4 linked regions of the Homo sapiens genome follow. The protein of the gene in region 1 interacts with the protein of each later gene in a pairwise test. Each region holds a gene or a part of one and is shown in the gene's direction. Other genes may lie near its edges. The genes, in order: FKBP2, S100A9, ATXN1 and RAP2A.

Region 1 (6,830 bases):
CCTCTTTCTCCTCCCACCCGTCCCCCACTTTCCCTTTTCCTCTGCTCCCCAAGCCTGTGTTCTCTGCCCCGACCCCAGCTCTAGGGAAGACTCTTCCTTCCCACCCCAGACATGTCGCTTCTCCTCCCTAGGGCTGCCACTCCCCACCACCGTCCCCAGCCCCGTTCTGTTCCGGGCTGGGACTCTGCCCCCGGAGCACCCTCCCCAGCTGACATCACCCATCCCACTCCAGCCCCAGGCCCCTCTGCCCACGCTGCACCCAGCACCACCAGCGCCCTGACCCCCGGACCTGCCGCTGCCGCTGCCGACGCCGCAGCTTCCTCCGTTGCCAAGGGCGGGGCTTAGAGCTCAACCCAGACACCTGCAGGTGAGGCGTCTGTGGGGTGGTGTTTGTTTGGGAAGGCACCAAGGCCCTGTCCTGGAGCAGGTCCAGGGTGAGCCTGCCAGTAGGAGGAGGGCCAGGGAAGGGGAAACTGTTGAATGTGTTGAACAAATATTTACCAAACAGCTGCTGGCACCTGGAGCTGTATAAGCAAGTCCAACATTCTAACTCAGGAGTCAGATACAGGAGGGACAATGCCAGCAGAGGATGTCAAGGGCTGTGGTGAGGGGTACCTGGCCTCGTCTTTCAGAGGTCAGAGATCTCTTGGAGGAGGTGACATCTGCCCGGAGTAGAAATGTAGGACACAGCTTTTCCAGCTTGCAGTTCGGGCCTTCCCAGAAGCCCCTGTGGTAGACATCTGCCCTTACCTACGGGCTTCAAGAGGCCAGGGGACATAGTGGAACCCTTGTCCACCCTTACCTGATGTGTTTCTCACCATCCGTGTCCCGCAGTGAGGCCATGGGGTGAAATCATATGGGCAGGGCCAGTGGGGGCTCCCGAGGAGTGTCAGGAGGGGATGACCTTTGCAAAAGGTTCATCCTTCGCCCTGCAGCCTCCAGTGCCCAGGGCCGAGTGGTGTGGCAGGATGCTCAGGTTGTGATCTTAGTGGGCCCGAGGCACACATGAGTCCAGGGCTGGGGCTGCGCTCCAGCCAGCATGAACAGATCACTTCCTCCCTCCTCAGGTGCCGGAAGCTGCGAAGGTGACACATGGCTTTTCAGACTCAGCAGGGTGACTTGCCTCAGAGGCTATATCCCAGTGGGGGAACAAAGAGGAGCCTGGTAAAAAACAGCCAAGCCCCCAAGACCTCAGCCCAGGCAGAAGCTGCTCTAGGACCTGGGCCTCTCAGAGGGCTCTTCTGCCATCCCTTGTCTCCCTGAGGCCATCATCAAACAGGACAGAGTTGGAAGAGGAGACTGGGAGGCAGCAAGAGGGGTCACATACCAGCTCAGGGGAGAATGGAGTACTGTCTCAGTTTCTAACCACTCTGTGCAAGTAAGCATCTTACAACTGGCTCTTCCTCCCCTCACTAAGAAGACCCAAACCTCTGCATAATGGGATTTGGGCTTTGGTACAAGAACTGTGACCCCCAACCCTGATAAAAGAGATGGAAGGAGCTGTCCCTGCCTGTGTCACTGTTTGTCACTGTCCAGGCTGGCTGGTTTGGGCATGAATGTCTGCATCACTAAATCCAGAGCTTGTCTTGCTCCCTCATTGTGCAGATGGAGGAAATGAGGACTAAGGCCCCACAGCAGATCCCAGGCAGGGCCAGAATTATGTATTCATCACTTTCAAGTTATTGCCACGCATGGGAGTCAGGGATAGCCCAGTCAATACAGACTGCCTGCCCTCCTGCTCTTCACCAGGGTTCTTTTCTAGAAGGAGACAGCCTTCTGTGGCCAGAGAGCTTGGGGTAGGACCCAGATCTACTGAGTGACCTTGCTTGTCACTACCCCTGCCTCTCTGAGCAGCAGTTTCCACATGTGCACATAGAGGGAACAGAAGATTGCTGTGGTTGGCGTCCTCGGGCCCCAGAGAAGTTTGAGACTATCTTTACGTAATAGAAAAGAACACTTGTTCTTCCTGCCAGGCAGCGCTTTCAGCATCTGCTGCTTTTTGTTCCCTGCAGCTTGAATCTAAAGCCTCAGCACCTGCCCTGTCTTAACTTCACTCCCACCTCCCTGAAAGGGAAGCACCGCAAGTCTGGGGCTGGTGGGCCTGGTTTGGGCGGCAGGCTCCCCTCAACCCAACCCACAGTTTTTTGTTTTTTTTTTTGTTTTTGGACAGAGTCTCACTCTGTCACCCAGGCTGGAGTGCAATGGCACAATCTCCACTCACTGCAACCTCCATCTCCTGGGTTCAAGCGATTCTCCTGCCTCAGTCTCCCAAGTAGCTAGGATTACAGGTGCCCACCACCATGCCCAGCTAATTTTTGCATTTTTAGTAGAGACGGGTTTCACCATGTTGGCCAGGCTGGTCTCGAACTCCTGACCTTGGGTGAACCACCTGCCTCAGCCTCCCAAAGTGCTGAGATTAGAGGCGTGAGCCACCGCGCCCGCCCAACCCACACAGTTTTCTCCACCCTCGCCTCCCTTGCATCCTGCAGCTTCCTTCATCATCAGTTGCTGCCTGAGATTCTCCTGACTTGTCTATCCTAGCCCAAGCCCAGCCCCTACCCTTCTCCCTGCAGCCTCCAGTGCCCAGGGCTGAGTGGTTTGGGGTGGATGAAAGGCCAACCTTGGGCACCACTGCTTTGCCTGCTGAAGCAGGACATTCAGGGGCAGAGTTAACTCAATTGGGCAGCCACTGGGAGGGGCAGCCACCCTAATGGAGGCTTTCTCTGAGGTGTTGGGTCAGAGCATGTGGGTATGATCTTAGTGGGCCTAAGGCAGGAGTGGGTTGAACCAGGAGACAATTCCTGACAGCGATTACTACTTTCAAATCATTTTCTCAGTCATGATGTCACTGGACATGCCATAGGTCAATTAGCATGAGGCAGAAAGGGGTTAGGGCCCCAGAGCTACCGCCTCCAGAGCCCAGTTAGCCCCACCAGTCACGCACAATGCTTCACATGCACCTCCTCACTTTCTCCTCGCTCGATTCTGAGGTCAGCATCATGATTGTCTTCCTTTTACAATTGAGGAAATAGGCTCAGAAAGGCTAACTGGCCGGGGGGATTTGACCTCAACTCAGCTGTCTCCCTAACCTTCAACCTAGGTTTAGCTGCCTCTCAACTGCAGGTTCATTACTTCAGTTGACAGATGTTTGGTGGCTGCTGGGGCGCCTGAAAATAAGTCTGGTGGGGGAACAGGCCCAGCCAGATCATTCCAGTCATGAGTCACAGCCCAGGTGCACAGGTAGAGGTAAGCCTGGCTCCTGGGAGAGAGATGTGGGCAGGAGCATTGGCTGGAAGCCAGGGCTTGTCATTGGACATCATCTCGGTCCTGCAGGGGCCCTGTGGGGTGGGTGTCATCAAGCCCGTGTTACACGCCTGTATTGGATGACAAATTCTACCAAGCACACAGCCGACCGGGAGTTCAAACGTGAGTGTCACTGTGAAGCCCAGGCTCCACAGCGACTGAGGGCCGTGGGCCATGATGAGGCCCGGGAAAACAGGAGTGCTGTGGGAGAGGCTGGGGGCGACTTGAAATGGCGCCTCAAGACCCCCTCCGGGAACCCACGCCCGCCTGACCTTACTATCACCTCGGCCGGAAGTGTCTCCGGCCTTTTCGGAAGTCACTTTCACCTAACCTTACAGACTACCGCTCCGCCGGAAGTGACGCAGGGCAGCGGCGTCGCGGGGGCGGGGCTCGGGAAAGACCCGTGCCAGCGGGCGTGTGGCCGCGGGTTTCGCACGGTCCAATAAGGGAGGGCGGCGTGGCCCGGCCTGGTAGCGACGAGGACGCGCCTGCGCAGAGGCGGCAGCACCACCGGGGTTGACTCCGGGGGCGCGGCGAGGAGGTGAGCGGGGGCCACAGCCCGGGCTGGGGGGAGCCGGGGTGCAAGAGGGCAGGCTGGATCAGGCCGGGCAGAAGCGGACCGGGCTCCGAGTGTCAACGAGAGCTAGGTGACGAGGAAATTGGGGGTGGGGGCCGGAGCTGTCCGGAGATGCCGCAGGGGGAGGGTTCTCACGCCGCACGGGGCGGAGTCCTGGGACTCGGGGCGGGACGTGGAACCGGGACGGGTGGGACCTCCGAGCTGGTGCCAGTGGAAGGCGGAGCCCGGCGGCGGGGGGCGGAGCTAGGAGGGTCGGGGGACGGAGCCTGGCTCTTGAAGGAGGAGCTGGAGGAGGTGAAAGGCGGAGCCTCGGGGTCGGAAGCAGAGGGGGACGGAGCGGAGGCGCTGGGGGCGGGGCTTCAGCCGGTGAGTGGCGTGGCTACGGCTCCGGAAAAGGGGTCTAGTTCTGTCGAAGGCGGGGCTGCAGGCCCGGGGGCGGTACCGCGTCCTCCGAAGGGCGGTGCCAAGGAGCCAAGTGAGGAGCCTGGCCCGAGTAATGGCCCCGGGCGTCCTCGCGGGGGTGGTCTCCGTGGTGGCCGGGCTTGGGGACGCCGTAGGCCGAGAACTCCACCGGGAGAGGTGGTGTGGGTGGAGCGGGCTCGGCGGCCAGCAGACACAGGGCCAGTCTGGGTGCCCCGGAGACCCCCAAGGGCTCAGAGTTGGGGCGGCGCCCCGGGCGGAAGCACAGGGCCAGGCTGGGGGGTATCTCCCGAGGACCCGGGCTCCTCGGAGCCACCCAGTGGGGATGTGTGGGTGCCTCGGGGCCGGCCCCCTGCAGCGGCCGCAGAGGTGTTGGTGTGCTGGACCGGGGGCAGCTGGGTGTGGCGTGAGTGGGGCCGCCCAGTCGGGGCAACTGCAGTGCAGCCAGATAGGGTCTGGACTTTGCGTAAAGGGACAGGCGGGAACTGAAGAGCGGAGGTGGGGACTGGGAGGGAGGGAAGGTATGGGGGTGAGCAAAGGGGCGGGTCCCTGGCTGCTGTGGCCTCCCCTGACCCCCTCCCCCCGCTGCTGGGGTCCTCGGCCAAGCCCCCTTCTCACTGGACTGGTAAGTGTGGCCCCGGAGCCCGGGGGAGAGGGCGGTGACCCGGGACAAAGGGGATCCCCCGGGGCAAGGAAGATACAGTGGCGGTGGAACCCTCCTGTTACCTACCCGTGTTCCATACTCTCCCTGCCCTCCCCCACGTTCAGTCGGTCGGTCGGGGTCTGTGCCCACAGAGACATGAGGCTGAGCTGGTTCCGGGTCCTGACAGTACTGTCCATCTGCCTGAGCGCCGTGGCCACGGCCACGGGGGCCGAGGGCAAAAGGAAGCTGCAGATCGGGGTCAAGAAGCGGGTGGACCACTGTCCCATCAAATCGCGCAAAGGGGATGTCCTGCACATGCACTACACGGTGAGTGGGTTGGGCGGGCCTTTTGGGAGTGGGTGGGGCTTCCGAGGACCAGAGAGTGCTTGGGAGTCTGGTTCTCCATAAGCCAGGTAGGTGACCTTGGGCAAGTCCCCTCTCGCCTCTAAGCCAGTTTCCATGGTTCTGCCTTGCCCTTGCCTACTGCCCAGGTGGGCACCAGCAGGCAGTGACAGTGTACTGTGAGCTGCCCAAGGCTCTGTCCTCTTAAAGAACTATGACCAGCTGGGCGCAGTGGCTCACCCCTGTAATCCCAGCACTTTGGGAGGCCGAGGCGGGTGGATCACCTGAGGTCAGGAATTTGAGACCAGTTTGGCCTCATGATGAAACTTTCTCTGCTAAAAATACAAAATTAGCCAGGCGTGGTGGCGGGCGCCTATAATCCCAGCTACTTGGGAGGCTGAGGTGGAAGAATTGCTTGAACCCGGGAGGCAGAGGCTGCAGGGAGGCGAGATCACGCCGCTGCACTCCAGCCATGGCAACAGAGACTCCATCTCAAAAAACAAAAAGGACTGACCACCAGGGCTGTGGGTGGGCGTGGGGGGGCAGCTTGATGGGGAAAGCAGCTGAGGGAGGGGGTGTCAGGGGTGGTCCCCTCTTCCTCACTGGCCTTCTCATGGTTCCACAGGGGAAGCTGGAAGATGGGACAGAGTTTGACAGCAGCCTGCCCCAGAACCAGCCCTTTGTCTTCTCCCTTGGCACAGGCCAGGTCATCAAGGGCTGGGACCAGGGGCTGCTGGGGTGAGTCATGGGGGAATGGGCTTGGGAGTGGGGGCGTGCATGGCCACCGCCCAGGAGGTAAGCTGTGGGAGGCAAGCCCCAGGGATACAAGACAAGGGCCCTGGGTGCTGCCATGGGCTGAGCATGTGTCTTCCTGCAGGATGTGTGAGGGGGAAAAGCGCAAGCTGGTGATCCCATCCGAGCTAGGTAAGAGGCCCCTCCTGAGGGTGCAGAGCGAGTTTGGGGTGTGTGACTGGGAAGGGTGAAAGCTGCTTCAGCTTTTCATTGGTCTTCACCGTATCCATTCATTACAATACATGCCTCCTCCAAGTTTGGCTGTGTCTAGCAGTGAGTACAGGGCAAGATCATTGAAGCACTCAGCTGTAGTGGCCCCACTCTGCCCTTGCCAGGCCTTTGGCACCCCCTTCCCATCTCCATTACCCTTCTCCATTTCTGGCCTTCTTGCTGAGAGGGGCGGAACACTCTCCCTTTGCCCACACTGGAAGGGAGCTTGGCCATCACTGACTGTTTCTTTGTGCATCTTCAACAGGGTATGGAGAGCGGGGAGCTCCCCCAAAGATTCCAGGTAGTAAACCTTTTGATACCTCCCATCACCTGCAGCCAGCCCACCTCCCTGTGGCCCTGGTTGGCATTTTGACTCCCCTTCTCCCCTACAGGTGGTGCAACCCTGGTGTTCGAGGTGGAGCTGCTCAAAATAGAGCGACGAACTGAGCTGTAACCAGACTGGGGAGGGGCAGGGGGAGAGGCCCCCATCAGGGACCAGACTGTTCCAAAAAAAAAACAAAAAACAAAAACAAACAAAAAAAC
Region 2 (7,393 bases), on another chromosome or scaffold:
TGATGTGGACTGAGCCCAAACGTGGTAGAACAATGGTCTGAAGCTACCCGTGGATAGCTTCTGTAAGTCATCCTAATGCACTAGAGTCTAGAATGAGCACTGGGGAAATGGGGGATGTTAGGGCGCTTGTGGTTAGGAGACCCGTACCCAGAGATCTCCAAGGAAGAGCACTTGGGACTCCCAGCAAGGAGGAAGACAGGGAGTGGAGGAATAGGCAGCAGGCTGTGCGCAGCCTGAGTGGGGCTGGGCCTCAGGCATCAGAGTCCCTGTGAGGAGAGGGACCTGACTTCACCTGCAGGTGGAGCAAGTAAGCCAGGAGACAGTGTCCAGGGGCCATGAGGCTAGTAGTAGTCATGAAGCCCACCAAGAGTCCATCAAAACTTGGAATCTGTGCTAGAAATGACCTAAGGGTCAGCTGTCCCAATCTCCTCATGTAATGGATAAGAAAATGGAGGCCCGAACATGGAAATCACTTCTAAAGACCACCAGCAAGTCTGAGAAAGCTAAGGACTAAAACCAGCTCAGTCCCTCAGTCCGGGTCCCACTGTGTGCCTGCTGTAACACCCCCATTACAACACAGGAGGGGTAAAGCTCCCTGAAAGACCACAGTGGGAGCTGCAGAGAAGGGAAAGACAGACCCGCAGTGGGTCCCAGGCATCTGGGAAAGAGCACAGTGATTTGATGGTAGCTGCAGGAACCTCTGCCTGCTTGTTTGTTTACTTGCTTGGTTGTTTGTTTGTTTGAAATGGAGTCTCACCCTGCCACCCAGGCCAGAGTGCAATGGCGCGATCTTGGCTCACTGCAACCTCTGCCTCCCAGGTTCAAGCGGTTCTCCTACCTCAGCCTCCTGAGTAGCTGGGATTACAGGTGCGCACCACCACACCCGGCTAATTTTTTGTATCTTTAGTAAAGATGGAGGTTTCACCATGTTGGCCATGCTAGTCTCGAACTCCTGACCTTGTGATCCACCCGCCTCGTGCTCCCAAAGTGCTGGGATTACAGGCGTGAGCCACCGTGCCCGGCCACTTATTTGTTTTTTAACCCAAAAAGCCACACCCTTTTCTCCCAGTGAAAACCTCGAGTCATTGTACAGAGCCAGGAAAATTGGCCCACCCACTTCATGCCCTAGCAGAAGGCTCCGACTTTCCCTGGAAAATCAGTACCCAGAGGGGAAGACCCCCATCCCACCATCCCTCAGTCCAACCTCTGGCCTCGGCTGGCAGTGAGGAGGCAGGTGGGTGTCGGCCACCTACTGATCATGCCAGGAATTGTCTGCTCCGGTCAGAACCAGAATGGCTCAGCCCTGGCCTCACCTGCGCCTGGGCTAGCCTGGAACCTGGGGGCCTGCAGTGGCCTTCTAAGATGGGGGCCCACTGTCAGCATCAGATCCCCCAAGTGCAGATTCCCGTCTGTTTTGAAACCCTGACCAGCTGCTCATTCCCACCCACTGCTGAGCCTTCTCTCCCCCAACTCCCTATTTTACTTTCATTCTGAATCAGCACTAAATGACCACAGTCAGTGGCTCTGCAGAAAGTCACAGAACAGAGGGTGACAGGCCAGTGTTTATGTCACATTCACTCATTTCATCATTGATTCATGCACTCCTGAATTTATTCAATCAACAAGCGTTCATCCAGTGCCTCTGAGCCAGCCCTTGCCTGGTGCTAAGACTTTGGAGGGTAGCAGGCAGCATCCCTGCCTAGAGGAGCCACAGTGGTGTGGAGGAATCAGAAAGTCCACCTGAAAGTTGAGAGCTCCATGACAAAGCAGAGATGCCTGCCGCACACCATCACTCAGGGTTTGAGTCACACACACCCTGCTTCATTGTCATGCTTTTTTTGTTTTTATTTTAAATTAATGGACAAATTGTATTAAACAGGAATTTTCATATAAAGCTTCAGATGTCCTGGGCCCTCAGGAGGTCCAAGAACATCTGGTCTACTTTCCCACGTGGCAGCCCTGGCCTGACACTGGCTGTCCCTTCAAGGTAGGAACGTTCTCATTCCCCACAGTTGCCACCACTGTCCAGTGTCCCCAACCCTGAGGCCCCATATCAGTGGCCACAAGTTGCCCTACTGCTGCCGTTGATGTTCTCATGCCCCACCAGCTTCACCTTGGGTCTGGTTCCCGCAAGGGTGAGTTGGAGATCCTTGGTCCTGAGTGAGAAGTGCTTTGTCAGAGGCAGCAGAGGGCGCCATGGGAGCACACAGGAAGGGCGCCTGGGGCTGTGCAGGGACTGCAGAACAGGCTGCACTGGCACACAGGGTTGGCTGCTGGCTGCTGGCTGCTGGCTGCTGGCTGGGTTTCCTCTATTAGCTTAAACAATGGAAGGTGGACTTGGATAGGAAATCTACCTCATGTATTCCTGAGCTGTGTCTGCACCGTTCATTCATTCGTAGGCGACTCATGTATTCAAGCACTCATTTATTTATTAGATGCTTGCTGTGTGCTTAGCACTGTGCCAAGCCCTGTCCTTAGCTACCAAGAGTTTAAAACGTAATTTGGAAGACAGGATATAAGATTATGTCTCCCCTTTGTATTGCGACTCACTCATCAAGTTCTCCCAGCATCTAGCATTCATATCTGGCACTCAGTAGGTGCTCAACAAATATTTGTTGCATAAATGAATGAAAAGATTATTAGTAATAATACCTTTTATTTACTGAGCTCTTCCCAACTTTCCATGTATTGTCGCAATCCTCAAGGTAAGTCCTGATATTATCCTATTTTATTGATAAGAAAAGTAAGGCACAGAGAAGTTAAGTAAACTGCCTAAGGTCACACAGACAGTCTGAAGTCTTAACCACTACTCCAGGTGCATCTCAGCAGTGTGAGGCAGGCCATGCTTAGGGCCAATGCTTAGCACACACAGAGATTGCCTCAGGCTTTCAGAGGACAAAGCAGTCAGGAGGGGCTGGGGCAATAAAGGAAGGCTTCATGGAGACAGAACAAAATAACCAGTGCAGGTAGAAGAAGAGAACCATCTTTCCTGATAGAGAGAGGGGGCAGCAAGCAAGAGGGAGTCCCAGGGTGGATCATCCATACTGGCTTCCAGGGGTGACGGGAAAGGATGCCAGCAAGGACTTCAGCAAGGATCAATCAGCAAATCCGAGGGTGTCTCTCTTGCCAAGCCCCGGGCTGTGTGCATAGGAGAAGGAGAACATGAATGAGAACCTACCTTTGAGGATCTACAGCCAATTGTTGGACAGAGGCAAAATATGTATATAATTTTACTCCAGGAAAGCAAGTGTTGAGAGCCAGAAGTGGTATGAGAATCATAGTCAGGAAGACAGAAACTGTTTCCAAATGGGAAGCACAGAGCAGTCTCCTTGGAAGAGAGTGCATTAGAACTGAGCCGTGGGGGCGGGCAGGATATCACTGTGGAGTAGGGGAAGGGCACTCCTGGGGTGGCAAGGTGGGAGGTGGGCCCTGTGTTCCCACAGTGGGCAGGGAGGTAGTGAAAGGGAAGCTGGCCGGACAGGCAGGGCCATTCCAAGAGGGCTTTGTGCGCAGGGCTAAGCCAAGCTTTCTCCATAGGCAATGGGGAGCAACTGGAGGTTCGTAGCAGGAGAAGGACACATCTTGCCCACCAGGAGGCTAAGTAAAAACAGTTGTCTCCCAAGTTATAAGTTCCTGGAACCCTTGCTGGGAGCAGGATTTAGAAAAATGATGCTGAGAGATGCTAGAAACATATTCGCCCTGAGGCTCTCTCACTCAGACTGCAAGAGGAAGGTATCATCAGAATTGCCCTTAACCAGGAACCAGAATAGCTGGGTCCCCTTCCTGCCAAGTCAGCAACCAGCTATGTGACCTTGCTCAGGTCCATCTCCGGGTGTCAGTTTCTTCATCTACAATGCAAGAGGGTTGCCCACCTCTGAGAACCCTTCTAACCCCAAATCTCACCCTATGAATCTAAGAACACCAACCCCTCGCCATCCTAAGTATCACAGAGCCAGGCAAGCATGGGTGAGAGCTCAGACCATCCTTGTTGGACTAAAAGGAAGGGGCAGACTGCCCATGGGGGGCAGCCGAGAGGGTCAGGCCCCCATAGGTCCTCAGCCTGCTTCAACCTCAAAGGGGATGGGGGGCTGAGTGGTGCCAGAGGAGCAGCAGGCTCGCTCGGGGAGAGTAGGGCCTTAGGATAGAAGGGAAATGAACTAAACAACCAGCTTCCTCCCAAACCAGTTTCAGGCCAGGGCTGGGAATTTCACAAAAAAGCAGAAGGCGCTCTGTGAACATTTCCTGCCCCGCCCCAGCCCCCTTCCTGGCAGCATTACCACACTGCTCACCTGTGAAGCAATCTTCCGGAGACAGGGCCAAAGGGCCAAGTGCCCCAGTCAGGAGCTGCCTATAAATGCCGAGCCTGCACAGCTCTGGCAAACACTCTGTGTGGCTCCTCGGCTTTGGTAAGTGAGCTGCCAGCTTCCCCAGGCAGAAGCCTGCCTGCCGATTCCTTCTTTCCTTCCCTGACCCAACTTCCTTCCAAATCCTCCTCCTAGAAGCCCTCCTTGGTTGGCCCTGCCTACTTTAAAGCTTCTTTCACATTTTCTTAGGTCATGTTCCCCTGGGGCCTCCTGCCCTCAAATGCTTTGCTTTTTGGCACTCTGTAGATATTCTAAAAAATCATTTTGTACATGTGTGTGACAGGCCATCTCCCAGTTAAGTTGCAGCCTGTGCTTTCTTTTTATTTTGCACTTCCCCCACTATTTCTGTGAGTGCTTAGTAGGAAGTGTCAAAGAAGCTTGACAGCATTTTCTTCTAAGTGTCCCAACTCTTGGTTTTCCATTACACAGACAGAGTGCAAGACGATGACTTGCAAAATGTCGCAGCTGGAACGCAACATAGAGACCATCATCAACACCTTCCACCAATACTCTGTGAAGCTGGGGCACCCAGACACCCTGAACCAGGGGGAATTCAAAGAGCTGGTGCGAAAAGATCTGCAAAATTTTCTCAAGGTAGGGCTGGACTCTGGCAGGTCTGACCCAGCCTCACCGCAGTTTGGGTTGACAAGGGAGGATGGGAGTATGGGCTACAGCAATCAAGGGGAAGATTTGAGCTCCTGGAGCCCAGCCCCAAGACGCAGCGAGTGTCCTGTTATACAGGGCAGGTGCTCACAGTTACACAGGACGACAGGGTCAAGAAATTGCTCAATTGAACACCTGCTATTTGTCGGGCCCTGTTCTGGGCAGAGGGATGTAGTGGTAAATGGGGAGCCCACTATTCCAGTGGAGGGAGACACACAGTAAAGTTGTTGGCCAATAAAGAGCACAGATAAAGCCAAATGCCAATAAGTGCCTGGAAGAAAATGAGATAGAGTGCGCTGTGGGCAATGGGGCTGGGTGGGGTGGAGGTGACCAGTTAGGGTACATGAGAAGGGCCTCTTTGAGGAGGTAACATTTGAGCTGAGCCCCGAATGTTGGGGAGGGAAGCCCCTGAGGATGACACTTGGCACAAAGCTGAGGAGACCCTAAGCCTCAGGCGGGAACTTGGGGTGGAAGACTTGGGGGCTTTTCTAATCCTAAGGGTCTGCGGTGGAAAATGAATGCATAAAGAGCACATGGAGAGCACCTGCACAGCACTCAGGGAACTGGGAGGTTTTTCCCCCGCTCCAAAAATGATTAGGCAGTTCTAAGAAAAAGGCTGAGCACTTCCAACAGCCTTTTTGTTTTCTTTTCAAATTTGGGGAAAGTCGGGAAACAGAGGCCTGCATTAAGAAGGGTGGAACACATGGGTCTCAGTCTCAGTTCCAGTCCCGGAGCCAGACATCCTGGGGTAGGTCCCCAGCCCTCCCAGTGCCCCTCCCTCCGCCTTGGTAAGGTGGAGAATTGCAGCCTTCAGAGTTAGGGGCCCTGACAGCTCTCCATAGGTGGAGGCCTCAGGCAGGCAGGATGCTGGGTGGGGTAGGCAAGAAAGGGCCCAGCAGAGAGGCCGCATGGCAAAACTATCCTCCATGTGACCCCCTATGCCCGCTTCACCCCCCACCTGACATCCCCCACCAGAAGCAAAGCGATGCTGTGGGAAAGGAAGCAGAGCCTCATGGATGGGCTGCACAGGAGAGTGCTCGCATTGGCTGGGTACCCCACAGGTTCTGGGAGGGGACTTAGCGAGGTGACTCAGCCAGAGGGTGGCAGAGCTGGAACCAACCAGTGCTCTCTTGGACCCCGCCTGGGTCTGGGTCTTCCACCTCCCCTGATGTCTCTCCTTTTTTTTTTTTTTTTTTTTTTTTTGAGACAGAGTTTCGCTCTTATTGCCCAGGCTGGAGTGCAACGGCACAATCTCGGCTCACCACAACCTCCACCTCCTGGGTTCAAGCGATTCTCCTGCTTCAGCCTCCAGAATAGCTGGGATTACAGGCATGCACCACCATGCCTGGCTAATTTTGTTATTTTTTGTAGAGACAAGGTTTCTCCATGTTGGTCAGGCTGGTCTCGAACTCTTGACCTTAGGTGATCTGCCTGCCTCGGCCTCCCAAAGTGCTGGGATTACAAGCATGAGCCACCCTGTCCGACCATCTCCCCTTTTATACTTTATCACACCCTTGAGGTCAGCGGAGCACATACTCTGCTCTCTGACCCTCCATCTCCCCTGCCCACACCTAGTTTTTCTAGGTGTTTCCCCGTTGTATTGGTTGAAATAAGTTTCACTAATTGGTAACCTCCAGAGGGAAGGGAAGGGAGGGCAGGGGAAGGAGTGAAGTGCAGAGGGGTAGCAGAGTGGAACTGGCCTCTAAGTCAGATCTGAATTTGCATGCCCTCAATAGTCAAGCTGTGAAAACTAATGACCCTCTCTAGGACTGGTTTCAAGTCTTCCTCCAGGAAGATACCATTCCTAGCTGTTAAAGTTGTTATAAGGACCAAATGAGGTGACATTTCCAGGCTTACTCATGCCATGACCAGGGCAAGACCCTGGAACTCAGCTTCCTCTTCTATAAATAGAGAATCAGCACCCAAGTCACAGGGTCATGGAGGGAATAAACTGGAGAGCGTTTGGTATGTGCTCAGTGTCTGCTCCATTGTGCGCACTCAGCCTATGGTCATTTTTAATTTTTAAATCCAGCCCCAGGGTGAGGCTTCCCTTGTACATTTGCCAGCTGGTCATTTACTGTGCTCCCAGTCCCCACCTCTGGCCACACCCAGCTCTCACAGCCTTCTCTCCCCACCCGCAGAAGGAGAATAAGAATGAAAAGGTCATAGAACACATCATGGAGGACCTGGACACAAATGCAGACAAGCAGCTGAGCTTCGAGGAGTTCATCATGCTGATGGCGAGGCTAACCTGGGCCTCCCACGAGAAGATGCACGAGGGTGACGAGGGCCCTGGCCACCACCATAAGCCAGGCCTCGGGGAGGGCACCCCCTAAGACCACAGTGGCCAAGATCACAGTGGCCAC
Region 3 (7,024 bases), on another chromosome or scaffold:
CAACAATATTTTAAATATTGTTACATATAGCCAATATTCATTCAGATTCACCATGTATCTACCATTTTCATTCCTCTTCATTCCTCCCTGTACAAACTTCAATCTAGATTTGTTTTTTCTCTACCTAAAGAATACCTTTTAGTATTTTCTATAATGCAGATCTGTTGATGGTGAATTCTTTTAATTACTGTTTGTCTGAACATGTCTCTATTTTGCCTTCATTCTGGAAGGATCTTTTTGCTCCATATAGAATTCGCCATTGACAATTCTTTTTCTTTAGCACTGTAAAGATATTCCATTGTCTCCATTGTCTACTGGCTTCCATTATTTTTGTTGAGATGTAAACTGTGAGTTCCATTGTTGCTTATTTGGAGATAATATGTATTTTGTTCTAGAGGCTTTTTTTTTTTAATGGAGTTTCTCTATTGTCGCCCAGTCTAGAGTGTGATGGAATGATCTTGGCTCACTGCAACGATCTTGGCTCACTGCAACGATCTTGGCTCACTGCAACCTCCGCCTCCCGGGTTCAAGTGATTCTCCTGCCTCAGCCCCCCGAGTAGCTGGGATTACAGGTTCCTGCCACCATGCCCAGCTAATTTTTGCATTTTTAGTAGAGATGGGGTTTCACCATGTTGGCCAGACTGGTCTCAAACTCCTGACCTCAGGTAATCCACCCACCTCGGCCTCCCAAAGTGCTGGGATTACAGGCAGGAGCCACCACACCCAGCCTGTTCTAGAGGCTTTTAACGATATTTTTTCCTGTTTAGTTTACAAGATGTCTTTGATTTATAGCAGTTTAATTCTCATCTGCCTCAGTGAGGATTTCTTTTTGTTTATTTTTCCTGTTTGGGGCTAGGCCTTCTTGAAACTGTCTTATTATCCTTCTTCAGTTTGGGAAAATTCTTAGCCATTACCTCCTCAAGTATTAACTTCTGCCCTATTATCTCCCTCTCTTCCTCCTCCTAGGATTCAAATTATGTGTCTGTTAGCCCCTCTCAATGTATCCTATGTGTCTCTTACCCTCTCCTCCATATTGACCATCTTTTTGTCTCTATGTTCACTCTGTGGAGTCTCTTCTAAAGCTCTAATTAGAGAATCCAGTTCCTGAATTCTTTCTTAATCCATGTCTATTCAACTGGAAAGCTCATTGCATTCTTGATTTCAGTGGTGTATATTTTAATTCTACAATTCTCATAGACCTTTTTTAATTAATTAATTATTATTATTATTATTATTTATTTTTTTTTTTTTTAGAGACAGAGTCTCACTCTGTTGTCCAGGCTGGAGTGCAGTCTTGTGATCATAGCTCACTGCAACCTCTAACTCCTGGGCTCAAGATCCTCCTGCCTCAGCCTCCTGAGTAGTTGGGACTACAGGCACGCATCACCACACTAGGCTATTTTTTTTTAAATTTCTGTAGAAACGGGGTCTCATTTTGTTGCCCAGACTGGTCTGAAACTCCTGGCCTCAAGTGATCCTCCCTGTCTCAGCCTCCCAAAGTACTGAGATTACAGGCATGAGCCACCATGCCTGGCTTCATGGATCTTTTAAAAACAGATTCTAGTTTCCTATCAAAATTCTCAAGCTGTCTTTAATCTTCTTAATTATTGTAAGCATAGTCTTTGTAAAGTCTATATGTATGACTCTATATGAGAAGCCCTGGTGCATCCTTTTTTAAGATCTGATATTTTGCTAGTGCTTATACAAGCTATCTGGTCTCCTCATGACCACCACCCCCCTTTTTTAAATTGAATGCTTTTATTTGCAAAATTGTGAAAGTAATTCAAGACCTTAATCCAGTTTTAGGGACTCAGATGAGTCAATCTGAGCTTCAGACCTTGAAAGGCCTGTTGGCTTGTGGTTCACTGTCTCCTCTAAGGGACAGTGCTTTGGGGTCACAACTCAAAAGAATGGGGCTCACCAGAGAACACCCTCCCTTGGTGTATCCTGAACTCCATTACCTGTTCCCTATGCTCTTAACACTATCAAAAGCCCACTTGGTTTCCCAACTGCTCCACTTTGGAATGTTCAAGTGCCTTCAGGAGAAAACAGGCCCCCAACACCAGCTTCACCTCTCTGGGCCATCATCTTTTCCTGATCCAACCCAGGAAGTGTGTGTGTGTGTGTGTGTGTGTGTGTGTGTGTGTGTGTGTGTGTGACGGAGTTTCACTCTGTCGCCCAGGCTGGAGTGAAGTGGCATGATCTCGGTTCACTGCAGCCTCCGCCTCCCGGGTTCAAGCGATTCTCTTGCCTCAGCCTCCTGAGTAGCTGGGATTATAGGCGCCTGCCACCACACCTGGCTAATTTTTGTATTTTTAGTAGGGACAGGGTTTCACCATGCTGGCCAGGCTGGTCTCAGAGTAAAGTGGCACGATCTTGGCTCACTGCAACCTTCGTCCCCCGGACTCAAACGATTCTCCTGCCTCAGCCTCCTGAGTAGCTGGGATTATAGGGGCCCACCACCACACCTGGCTAAGTTTTGTATTTTTAGTAGAGATGGGGTTTTGCCATGGTAGCCAGGCTGGTCTCAAACTCCTGACCTCAGGTGATCCACGCGCCTTGGCCTCCCAAAGTGCTGGGATTACAGGCATGAGCCACCGCGCCTGGCCTTTTTACTATCTTATTTGCTGTCCAGTACTATAAGAAAAAAAGTTTAAACATTTTGTCCAGAGTTTTTAAATTTATTTGTTTGCTTATATTTTTGTTCAGAGTTTTTAGTTGTCCTCAGAAGGAGGGTTGGTCCAAATTACCTAGTCTACTACATCTAGAAAGGACATTGGAAATTGACTTTTTTTTTTTTTTTTTGAGACGGAGTCTCACTCTGTGGCCCAGGCTGGATCGCCCAGTGGCACGATCTCGGCTCGCTGCAACATCTGCCTCCTGGGTTCAAGTGATTCTAGTGTTTCAGCCTCCCAAGTAGCTGGGATTACAGGTGCCCGCCACCACGCATGGCTAATTTTTTTTTTTTATTTTTAGTGGAGACGGGGTTTCCCCATGTTGGCCAGGCTGGTCTTGAACTCCTGACCTCAAATGATCCACCCACCTTGGTGTCCCAAAGTGCTGGGATTACAGGCATGAGCCACTGTGCCCAGCCACCAAGCATCCTTTTAGGGGCTGGGGACTCAGTGATAAACACACTGTGCCTGCTTCTTGGAACTCACAGTCTCACTCTGATCCATGTTTAGTCCTGTCCTGTATGATAATAGCAGTTGTCCATTGAGCTCATAAAATCTAAGACCGCGCTGGGCTTGTGAGCCACCTGCAGAGCCTAGCTTGGTGCTGAAAGCTAAGTGGGTGCTCTGTCATTACTGGGGTTCGATTGACTGGTTCTAACAGAGACCAGCTATAGAGCTAACACTTGATGGAATATTTTGAATATTGATGACCTTTTCACTGGCTTCTGCCTATGGCAAGTAGAGGTACAACCCAAAGAGAAGAGCCTCATTTATAGTGTGTGGCTGGGGGAGAGGGAGGTTTGCAAACTGAGTCATTTTCCCCCATTCAGCCTGTGTGTGTCTGTGTGAGTTCATACCTGTGTGTGTGCATAAAATCAAACAAGAATAAAATGTTTTCATTTGTTCCCTTCCTTCTTCCTCTCTCTGTCTCTCCCTGTTTCCACAGGTCAGCGTTGAAGTTTTGGTAGAGTATCCTTTTTTTGTGTTTGGACAGGGCTGGTCATCCTGCTGTCCGGAGAGAACCAGCCAGCTCTTTGATTTGCCGTGTTCCAAACTCTCAGTTGGGGATGTCTGCATCTCGCTTACCCTCAAGAACCTGAAGAACGGCTCTGTTAAAAAGGGCCAGCCCGTGGATCCCGCCAGCGTCCTGCTGAAGCACTCAAAGGCCGACGGCCTGGCGGGCAGCAGACACAGGTATGCCGAGCAGGAAAACGGAATCAACCAGGGGAGTGCCCAGATGCTCTCTGAGAATGGCGAACTGAAGTTTCCAGAGAAAATGGGATTGCCTGCAGCGCCCTTCCTCACCAAAATAGAACCCAGCAAGCCCGCGGCAACGAGGAAGAGGAGGTGGTCGGCGCCAGAGAGCCGCAAACTGGAGAAGTCAGAAGACGAACCACCTTTGACTCTTCCTAAGCCTTCTCTAATTCCTCAGGAGGTTAAGATTTGCATTGAAGGCCGGTCTAATGTAGGCAAGTAGAGGCAGCGTGGGGGAAAGGAAACGTGGCTCTCCCTTATCATTTGTATCCAGATTACTGTACTGTAGGCTAAAATAACACAGTATTTACATGTTATCTTCTTAATTTTAGGTTTCTGTTCTAACCTTGTCATTAGAGTTACAGCAGGTGTGTCGCAGGAGACTGGTGCATATGCTTTTTCCACGAGTGTCTGTCAGTGAGCGGGCGGGAGGAAGGGCACAGCAGGAGCGGTCAGGGCTCCAGGCATCCCCGGGGAAGAAAGGAACGGGGCTTCACAGTGCCTGCCTTCTCTAGCGGCACAGAAGCAGCCGGGGGCGCTGACTCCCGCTAGTGTCAGGAGAAAAGTCCCGTGGGAAGGGTCCTGCAGGGGTGCAGGGTTGCACGCATGTGGGGGTGCACAGGCGCTGTGGCGGCGAGTGAGGGTCTCTTTTTCTCTGCCTCCCTCTGCCTCACTCTCTTGCTATCGGCATGGGCCGGGGGGGTTCAGAGCAGTGTCCTCCTGGGGTTCCCACGTGCAAAATCAACATCAGGAACCCAGCTTCAGGGCATCGCGGAGACGCGTCAGATGGCAGATTTGGAAAGTTAACCATTTAAAAGAACATTTTTCTCTCCAACATATTTTACAATAAAAGCAACTTTTAATTGTATAGATATATATTTCCCCCTATGGGGCCTGACTGCACTGATATATATTTTTTTTAAAGAGCAACTGCCACATGCGGGATTTCATTTCTGCTTTTTACTAGTGCAGCGATGTCACCAGGGTGTTGTGGTGGACAGGGAAGCCCCTGCTGTCATGGCCCCACATGGGGTAAGGGGGGTTGGGGGTGGGGGAGAGGGAGAGAGCGAACACCCACGCTGGTTTCTGTGCAGTGTTAGGAAAACCAATCAGGTTATTGCATTGACTTCACTCCCAAGAGGTAGATGCAAACTGCCCTTCAGTGAGAGCAACAGAAGCTCTTCACGTTGAGTTTGCGAAATCTTTTTGTCTTTGAACTCTAGTACTGTTTATAGTTCATGACTATGGACAACTCGGGTGCCACTTTTTTTTTTTTTCAGATTCCAGTGTGACATGAGGAATTAGATTTTGAAGATGAGCATATATTACTATCTTTAAGCATTTAAAAATACTGTTCACACTTTATTACCAAGCATCTTGGTCTCTCATTCAACAAGTACTGTATCTCACTTTAAACTCTTTGGGGAAAAAACAAAAACAAAAAAAACTAAGTTGCTTTCTTTTTTTCAACACTGTAACTACATTTCAGCTCTGCAGAATTGCTGAAGAGCAAGATATTGAAAGTTTCAATGTGGTTTAAAGGGATGAATGTGAATTATGAACTAGTATGTGACAATAAATGACCACCAAGTACTACCTGACGGGAGGCACTTTTCACTTTGATGTCTGAGAATCAGTTCAAGGCATATGCAGAGTTGGCAGAGAAACTGAGAGAAAAGGGATGGAGAAGAGAATACTCATTTTTGTCCAGTGTTTTTCTTTTTAAGATGAACTTTTAAAGAACCTTGCGATTTGCACATATTGAGTTTATAACTTGTGTGATATTCCTGCAGTTTTTATCCAATAACATTGTGGGAAAGGTTTGGGGGACTGAACGAGCATAAATAAATGTAGCAAAATTTCTTTCTAACCTGCCTAAACTCTAGGCCATTTTATAAGGTTATGTTCCTTTGAAAATTCATTTTGGTCTTTTTACCACATCTGTCACAAAAAGCCAGGTCTTAGCGGGCTCTTAGAAACTCTGAGAATTTTCTTCAGATTCATTGAGAGAGTTTTCCATAAAGACATTTATATATGTGAGCAAGATTTTTTTTAAACAATTACTTTATTATTGTTGTTATTAATGTTATTTTCAGAATGGCTTTTTTTTTTCTATTCAAAATCAAATCGAGATTTAATGTTTGGTACAAACCCAGAAAGGGTATTTCATAGTTTTTAAACCTTTCATTCCCAGAGATCCGAAATATCATTTGTGGGTTTTGAATGCATCTTTAAAGTGCTTTAAAAAAAAGTTTTATAAGTAGGGAGAAATTTTTAAATATTCTTACTTGGATGGCTGCAACTAAACTGAACAAATACCTGACTTTTCTTTTACCCCATTGAAAATAGTACTTTCTTCGTTTCACAAATTAAAAAAAAAATCTGGTATCAACCCACATTTTGGCTGTCTAGTATTCATTTACATTTAGGGTTCACCAGGACTAATGATTTTTATAAACCGTTTTCTGGGGTGTACCAAAAACATTTGAATAGGTTTAGAATAGCTAGAATAGTTCCTTGACTTTCCTCGAATTTCATTACCCTCTCAGCATGCTTGCAGAGAGCTGGGTGGGCTCATTCTTGCAGTCATACTGCTTATTTAGTGCTGTATTTTTTAAACGTTTCTGTTCAGAGAACTTGCTTAATCTTCCATATATTCTGCTCAGGGCACTTGCAATTATTAGGTTTTGTTTTTCTTTTTGTTTTTTAGCCTTTGATGGTAAGAGGAATACGGGCTGCCACATAGACTTTGTTCTCATTAATATCACTATTTACAACTCATGTGGACTCAGAAAAACACACACCACCTTTTGGCTTACTTCGAGTATTGAATTGACTGGATCCACTAAACCAACACTAAGATGGGAAAACACACATGGTTTGGAGCAATAGGAACATCATCATAATTTTTGTGGTTCTATTTCAGGTATAGGAATTATAAAATAATTGGTTCTTTCTAAACACTTGTCCCATTTCATTCTCTTGCTTTTTTAGCATGTGCAATACTTTCTGTGCCAATAGAGTCTGACCAGTGTGCTATATAGTTAAAGCTCATTCCCTTTTGGCTTTTTCCTTGTTTGGTTGATCTTCCCCAT
Region 4 (7,024 bases), on another chromosome or scaffold:
TGCCTTGGGACTCTCTTGGTAGATGATTTTAACTGTGTGAAAAGATGAATGAGGGGACTTAGAAAAGCCTTTCTGATTCTCATTTCCAAATTCAAAGAGAATTATATTTCAACCTGCTTATCACTAAGAAGATACCAGCATGTTAAAATTCACATGAAGTATGACCTTCTTTAAATACGCTACGATGCAGCACCCTCAAAAGTAAAGTACAGAAACTGACAGTAGTGGTATCTGTCTACAGTTTATCATTGGTGAATAAATGAAGGGAAGAAGGAATTGAGTCTGGACTTGCCGCATATGGAACCATGAACTATACACATAGAATGTTGTTTGGGGTCACAAAGTAGTAGATTAGGCCAGTGATTCCTAAACCCTGCTGAACTTCAGAATCCATCTTCAGAGCTTATAGATATAGACATATTACATATTTTAATAGACTCTTGGGTCCTGATCCCACAGATTTAGATTAACTAGCTCTGGAATAGGGCCCAGAAATCACTATCTTTAAAAGAATTCTCAAGTTGTGTTGATGATCAGCCAAGTTCAGACACGACCAGAATAAAATATATATACGTATACATACCTACATATCAGGACAGTTACAAGAAAGGAGAAAGCAAAATAAAGTATTTTGATAAACACATCAAGTTCTTTTGAGTTACTGATATTTTAAAAAGCTGTCTCGGTGAGAAGCCCATTAACATTCTACAGCTAAGTGATGCTACAGCCAGTATTTCTGATGTTTCATTCAGTCCATTAAGCAGAGCTGCTTAAAAGAACTAGTTTTATTTATTTATACATTTATAATCAGGTTCATGAATACAGTCAACACTATGGAAATTCTTGTCAATAAAAAAGTGTTTGTCCACAGACTACACACAGAAATAAAATTATTAGACCTGCATCAGTCACCGTCTGAGCTGGTCATGCCCTTAAAGGAAATTTCAAGGAAGATGGGCTGAAGTTGGTGAGATATCTGCTGATGTTTAAGATGTAAGCAAGGTGGTATCTTACTCATGATCAGGTTAACAATAACACATACATTGAACAGTTTGAGAATTTTGCATCTTTAGCTTTATGTCCAAATGATGAAAAGGGGGTAAGGAAGAAATGATGAAAAGGGGGAAATGATGAAAAGGGGGAAAATGAAGGCAACCTGCAAAACTGATAATGAAAATAGAACATGAAAGTAACTGTCATCACCCACTAACAAAGCACCTCATCTTCCTAAATAACAGAGTCAGCCCTCTAAGTCAGTCTGTCATAAGTGCCAGATTTGTTTTCTGAGGCCACTTTTGGCACCCGAATTCCTGAGGTCTAGCTTCAAATGAGCATTTCCTCCACTGCCAGAGTCCTGCAGGAGGCTGTAGAGATGGATCCCACAGCTGGTCCCTGCACTGACAGGCATGCTGTCGCCGGCTCAGGCATTGTCTAGGGCATGTCCTGCTTAGAATGCTCTTCCCCTAGAACCTGCACGGTAGGGAGCAGATTCCCAGAAACCCTTCCCATCTTTGTTCACAGCCACTTTCCCAACAAGGCCTGGGATCATCTTATTTAAAACTGTGGCACCTGTGCTCCCCACCCACCACCTGATCCACATCTTTTTTTCCATTGCACTTAACACTTTTATTGTAAACCCAGAATTGACTTGTTATGTTTATTGTTGATGTCTGCGCCCTCTGCTAATTACAGAGCTTTATTTGCTTTGTCCATTGATGTAAGTGTCTAGAATAGTGGCTAGCACTTAGTATATAAATATGTGTTGAGTGGATGGATAAGTACATGATGTATTGATTGTTCGATTGTTCATTACTAGCTATTTATGCCACATCAGGCAGTTTTCAGTATAGCCTTCAGTATTCACGTAGTTAAAACCATCCCAAATATTTGTGTTTGAACAACGTTGTCTGTGAAATGGAACTGCCTAGGTCATGAGTGCATTTTGGAGTTCTGCTGTTGAGTCAGAGCATGCTGGCAGTAGTGGCTCCGCTTGTAGAAGTGAAACCTCCTGCTTATGTTTTGGCCCCATGAGATCTCATAAGATTTCCCCCAACATTTTTGGCTTTACTCCTGATGCACACTTTCATATCTCTTAAAGATCAGCCTGTTGGACGTTATTCTTAGAACAGTGCTAAGCACTCAGCAATTAACCTAGTCAATGATATGTGTTGACTGTGGGTGTGACCCACCATGTCTGTTGTGATTTTTAACTTCAGAGTATCTTAGGAATTATCCAGTCCAGCTCATTTTATACTTCAAGAAACTCAGGAAACCAAGATTAGGTTAATCTTCTAAATTCACAGTACTAGCTAGAGGCAGCCCCTTCTGGGACAGGAGTCCTAGTCTGTTTGGTTTCTTTTTTTTTTAAACCCACCATATTGCTAAAACAGATAGCAACACCAGCTTCCTCATGCAGTGCAGTCATCTACTGTCAACACAGGTCTTGGCTTCTTTCCCTTCAGCGTCTCACCCATCTTTCTTAAGGAGGATCCAGATTTCTCCAAATGTTACCTTCATATGGGACCCTATTCTGTCACCCCAATCCAGAGCCTTCTTAGAATGCCTTTCCCACAGGGGCCAGTATATTCTCTCGAGTGCCCGCTGTTTGGGAATGCTTGCTTTTCTGCTTTCCTAGGCCCCCATCACCATGGATGTTCAGCACAGGGACTCTGGAGAAGCACCTGGTTAGTGTCTGGTGGCTGCTTTGTTGTTTTTGACTCCCATCTTTTTTGCCTGTCTCTTCCTCCAGCTTCACCCTCAACTCGGTTTGCCCTCAGGAGTTCTTTACCTCCTTTGATCAGTTTCTCCGGCTCCTTCTTCACCCTTTGTGGCTTCTCAAGGCCACATCACTAGAGTTAGGAGGGGAAAGAAGCAAGCACCCTCCTTTTATCTAGTACTTCATTTTTTTCAGCATTATCTCATTTGCCCTTTACAGCAACCCTGTGTTAAGTGGGAACAGATACTCTTACTCCCTTTTTACTATCAAAGAAATGAAATACAGATATGTAAAGGAAATGATCTCATTGGCAGAACTGGAAGCAGAGCCTCCAAATCTGGGTGTAGAATCTTTTCTACTGTCCCAAATTTTAACAGAGAGACAAAATTTATCACCGTCTGGTATTCTGAAATGTACATAATTTTTCTCAACATCGTACTCAGTTTAAAAATCTTCTGAGGATATTAATGTGGATTTCTCTAGTGTCTTTAGAAACTTGATTTTAGAAAAGGCCACTGACAAGTTAGTGATATAATAAACAGGTCCTCTGATACTGACTGCATTTTCATCTACATTTACCAGTTATTAAATGCTGTTATATGTGGAACTGTGTTTGCAATATTTTATTTACTGTTTTGAGAATTAGGTTGATGGTAAGATTTATTCAAATTCTTGATTTTAATAATGTATCAATACAACTTAATAATTTGATTTATTTGCAAGTTTTGAAAATCCACATATTCTAGTAGATCCTGAACTTAACTAAAAGTGTAAGAAATATTTCACATATAAAACATGATACAGGCTGGGTGCGGTGGCTCACGCCTGTAATCCCAGCACTTTGGGAGGCTGAGGCGGGCGGATCACGAGGTCAGGAGATCGAGACCATCCTAGCTAACACGATGAAACCCTGTCTCTACTAAATATACAAAAAATTAGTCGGGCGTGGTGGTGGGCGCCTGTAGTCCCAGGTACTCAGGAGACTGAGGCAAGAGAATGGCGTGAACCCGGGAGGCGGAGCTTGCAGTGAGCAAAGATCATGCCACTGCACTCCAGCCTGGGAGACAGAGCGAGACTCCGTCTCAAAAAAAAAATATATATATATATATATTTATATATTTATATTTATATATTTATATAGATATTTATATATTTATATATATTTATATATATATTTATATATATATTTATATATTATATATATTGTATTTAAACATTCTTTAAAATATTTATCATTTATCTCAACTAATAGAAAGTGATCTTATCACTTTTTATTATTCATAGACAGACTGAAATTTGTTTTAACTTAAATTCAACCAATGTTTTACTTAATTTTATTAATGTTTTTAAGTTACTCCACTGTCAAGCAAAGCATTTTAAAGTACACTGTGATGTATATACTTTCATAAGAAAAACGAAATGTAATTACATTTTGCAAGTAACACAAATTGGAAGCTGACATTGTCCTGACATGGCTGGCAGTGTCTGCTCCCTGCCAAGCTTCTCTGTATAGCCAATCAAGAGAGTTTATATGCAAAGTAGCAAATACATGGTGTTTTGTAATGCAGCTTTATTCTCACTGCCACTTGCCCTCCTAGAGGCCATGGGATGCACAAATTGTTTGTATGTAAGAGTCCTAGAAGATGTTAAAAACCCTTGTGTCTTATGTTCAGAGCTGTCAGCATGATCTAAGGCCCGAAATCGTAAGGTACAGTAGTGTACAGTAAATTTATATAAAGTCCTTTGATATAAATTGAAGTTGTCCAAATTCATTTCCTATAAAATGATAATATCCAAATTCTAGGTTTGCCTTTGATGTTGTTCCTTCCACTCATTTTTAAGTTGTTTTCATGTTTCACATTGCCAAATGGCACACTACCTGGAGTATGCCCTCTTGTTGAGACCATTCTTAGTTTGATATAGTGTCAAAGAAAAAAAGTGAGAATGTTGGGAATTTGGTTTGCTTTACAAGTTAGGATGAGTGGAGAGAACCCTCTTGACAGGATGAAGAAATCTGTGGAAGTATCATAGCGAACAATAACCACCTGCCTATTATCCAGTTTCCTGAATGATAAAAATTGTCTATGCATCCTGCCTCAAAGGCTTGACCATGGGGTGGTTTTCTCTTCTGACAGATTTAGCTGTTTCCAGTCACATTTGTTATCACTTTTGTGCGATCTTGCTGTTTAGCTCCTTTAAATCAGAAATACATTCTGCTTATGGGAAGACACACACACACAAACACACACACACACAGATTTATACTAAAATCACAAAAACCTTTTAAAATGTCTTGTGAAAATATATTAGCTATCTTTCTTAGAACAAACATAAAGAAGAATAGTAAATAAATGTGCAGTCCAGCACCAGTGTTGACATCTGTTGTGAAATGTGCTACATGGAGTAACCATTGTAGAGACAATCATCTTAGGCACCAAAATGACTTAGGAGCTTCTTTCTTTGTTCTTTCTTATCACTTACTATTTTTATTAGTTTAGCTTTTTCCAAACGTGTTTACTCAGAGATACCTATTTTAGTTAGGAAGAAAAAGAGAAATAACACCAATTAAAGCTAATTGAGGCTGAATTCTTGTCAGTCTTAAAAGAATCCTAATTGTTTCTCTTTGAACTGACTAATCCATAAAAGTTTTCTGAAGGGATGGGGTGTGGTTGTATTTGATAGCTTCCATTTGGATGATTTCTACTACCTTTTTTCTTGTTTGAGAACTATTAGAACGAACATGATCATTTTTTCAAGCTGGAGTGCGGTGGCACGATCTCAGCTCACTGCAACCTCTGCCTCCCAGGTTCAAGCGATTCTCCTGTCTCAGCCTCCCGAGTAGCTGGAACTACAGGCACCTGCCACCACACCCAGCTGATTTTTGTATGAACATGATCAATTTTATACACATAGAACATAGTAAAATGCTGATAATTATAAGTTGTTTGTTTACTCATTGTAGCTATTTACTGTGTGATCAACTGTGAAATTTTGTGCAACCCTCTCTCAGAATGGAAAAAAAAGAGGATTTAGTCTGAGTTTCTGAGAATAATTTTCCAAGTATATCTGGAAAGGTAAATTGATTTTAAAGGATATATAATTGATTAATTAAAACATCATTTCATAAAACTCATTTTATCATCCACTGTGAGAGCAGCTTCAAATGCCCTCAGATCTAAGTATCAAGCCAAGTGGTACAAATCATTTTCATGCAACTGAAGATACCATTTATGTTGGAATAGCCCCCAAAAACGAAAATACACGTGACCTGTTTAACTTTGTGCTAACTGTTACAATGTATGTGTGTTTTGTTTATTCTCTCATAGGTATGAGAAAGTGCCAGTCATCTTGGTTGGGAACAAAGTGGACCTGGAAAGTGAGAGAGAAGTATCGTCCAGCGAAGGCAGAGCCCTTGCTGAAGAGTGGGGCTGCCCCTTTATGGAAACTTCCGCTAAGAGTAAAACAATGGTGGACGAACTCTTTGCAGAAATTGTGAGGCAGATGAACTATGCTGCTCAGCCTGACAAAGATGACCCATGCTGTTCTGCATGTAACATACAATAGCATCCAAATATGGCTGTCCTGGATGGGATTTGCCCAATGTCGTAGGTGATAGAAAACTCGCCTACTCCACTGCAGAACTTGCAGAATGCGTGGTGTTAATCTACAGAGAACTGCAGCCCTTATTCAGAATTGAGCAGTGATTGTCAGTTGATATCTCTGAGTAACATTTGGGTTCAGTAACTACAGTTTTCACCATTTGTCCTCAGTCTCCTTTATGCATCTGCAACTTTAAGGCATAGTCCATCGATCTACAGGGTGATCTCATTTGAAAGCTATGATGGCATTGTCGCTGAGTTGACAGAAGCAACTATTGTACAAATTAAAAATAACCATAAGGGAGAAACCAGAAGAATTCCTCTGACCACTTACAATTAAAATATTTTGTCTTCTTTAAAAAAATAAGTAAAGGAGAAATATTTTCCTACAAGAGTACTGAATTTCAGGAAATGGGATAGAGCTTCTAACCAATGTATTCCGTCAAGTAAGATAATAACAGCTGACCTGCCAACAGCATTACAGGGAGATTCTTTGCTCAGCTAACACATTTCTGTTTTTCAAAATTGATGCTTAATTGTAGCTGTTATTCTAATTTGTGACATGGAACTAACTCATGCTTCAATCCTTGATAGAGCAAAACTCAGAACAGGTTATGTAAAAATATAGTCTGGCTTTAGAATTTGTTAATTCACCTGCTTTGCCACAGAAAATGGAGGCTTTCACAAGGGTTTGATCAGAATTAAAACC

Evidence for each region.
Region 2: the proteins of FKBP2 (region 1) and S100A9 interact in a two-hybrid assay, tested with the Homo sapiens proteins (one study listed by IntAct).
Region 3: the proteins of FKBP2 (region 1) and ATXN1 interact in binary tests that used the Homo sapiens proteins (3 or more experiments, as listed by UniProt).
Region 4: the proteins of FKBP2 (region 1) and RAP2A interact in a two-hybrid assay, tested with the Homo sapiens proteins (one study listed by BioGRID and IntAct).

What each region holds. Positions count from the first base shown.
Region 1 is NC_000011.10:64,237,289-64,244,118, forward strand, and holds the start of FKBP2 (peptidyl-prolyl cis-trans isomerase FKBP2 isoform 1 precursor), read left to right. Parts: upstream 1-3,806; 5' UTR 3,807-3,844; exon of another isoform or gene 3,845-3,991; coding exon of another isoform or gene 3,992-4,789; exon of another isoform or gene 4,790-4,925; intron 4,926-5,068; exon of another isoform or gene 5,069-5,095; coding exon of another isoform or gene 5,096-5,099; coding exon 5,100-5,270; intron 5,271-5,910; coding exon 5,911-6,023; intron 6,024-6,162; coding exon 6,163-6,209; intron 6,210-6,552; coding exon 6,553-6,588; intron 6,589-6,679; coding exon 6,680-6,741; 3' UTR 6,742-6,830. Other genes in the region: VEGFB (vascular endothelial growth factor B isoform VEGFB-186 precursor), read left to right, coding at 132-345; uncharacterized protein LOC114841035, read left to right, coding at 3,992-4,789. UniProt on the Homo sapiens protein: PPIases accelerate the folding of proteins. It catalyzes the cis-trans isomerization of proline imidic peptide bonds in oligopeptides.
Region 2 is NC_000001.11:153,353,476-153,360,868, forward strand, and holds the start of S100A9 (protein S100-A9), read left to right. Parts: upstream 1-4,378; 5' UTR 4,379-4,406; intron 4,407-4,793; 5' UTR 4,794-4,808; coding exon 4,809-4,958; intron 4,959-7,168; coding exon 7,169-7,363; 3' UTR 7,364-7,393. UniProt on the Homo sapiens protein: S100A9 is a calcium- and zinc-binding protein which plays a prominent role in the regulation of inflammatory processes and immune response.
Region 3 is NC_000006.12:16,303,457-16,310,480, reverse strand, and holds part of ATXN1 (ataxin-1), read left to right. Parts: intron 1-3,621; coding exon 3,622-4,152; 3' UTR 4,153-7,024. UniProt on the Homo sapiens protein: Chromatin-binding factor that repress Notch signaling in the absence of Notch intracellular domain by acting as a CBF1 corepressor. Binds to the HEY promoter and might assist, along with NCOR2, RBPJ-mediated repression. Binds RNA in vitro.
Region 4 is NC_000013.11:97,458,163-97,465,186, forward strand, and holds part of RAP2A (ras-related protein Rap-2a), read left to right. Parts: intron 1-6,042; coding exon 6,043-6,280; 3' UTR 6,281-7,024. UniProt on the Homo sapiens protein: Small GTP-binding protein which cycles between a GDP-bound inactive and a GTP-bound active form. In its active form interacts with and regulates several effectors including MAP4K4, MINK1 and TNIK.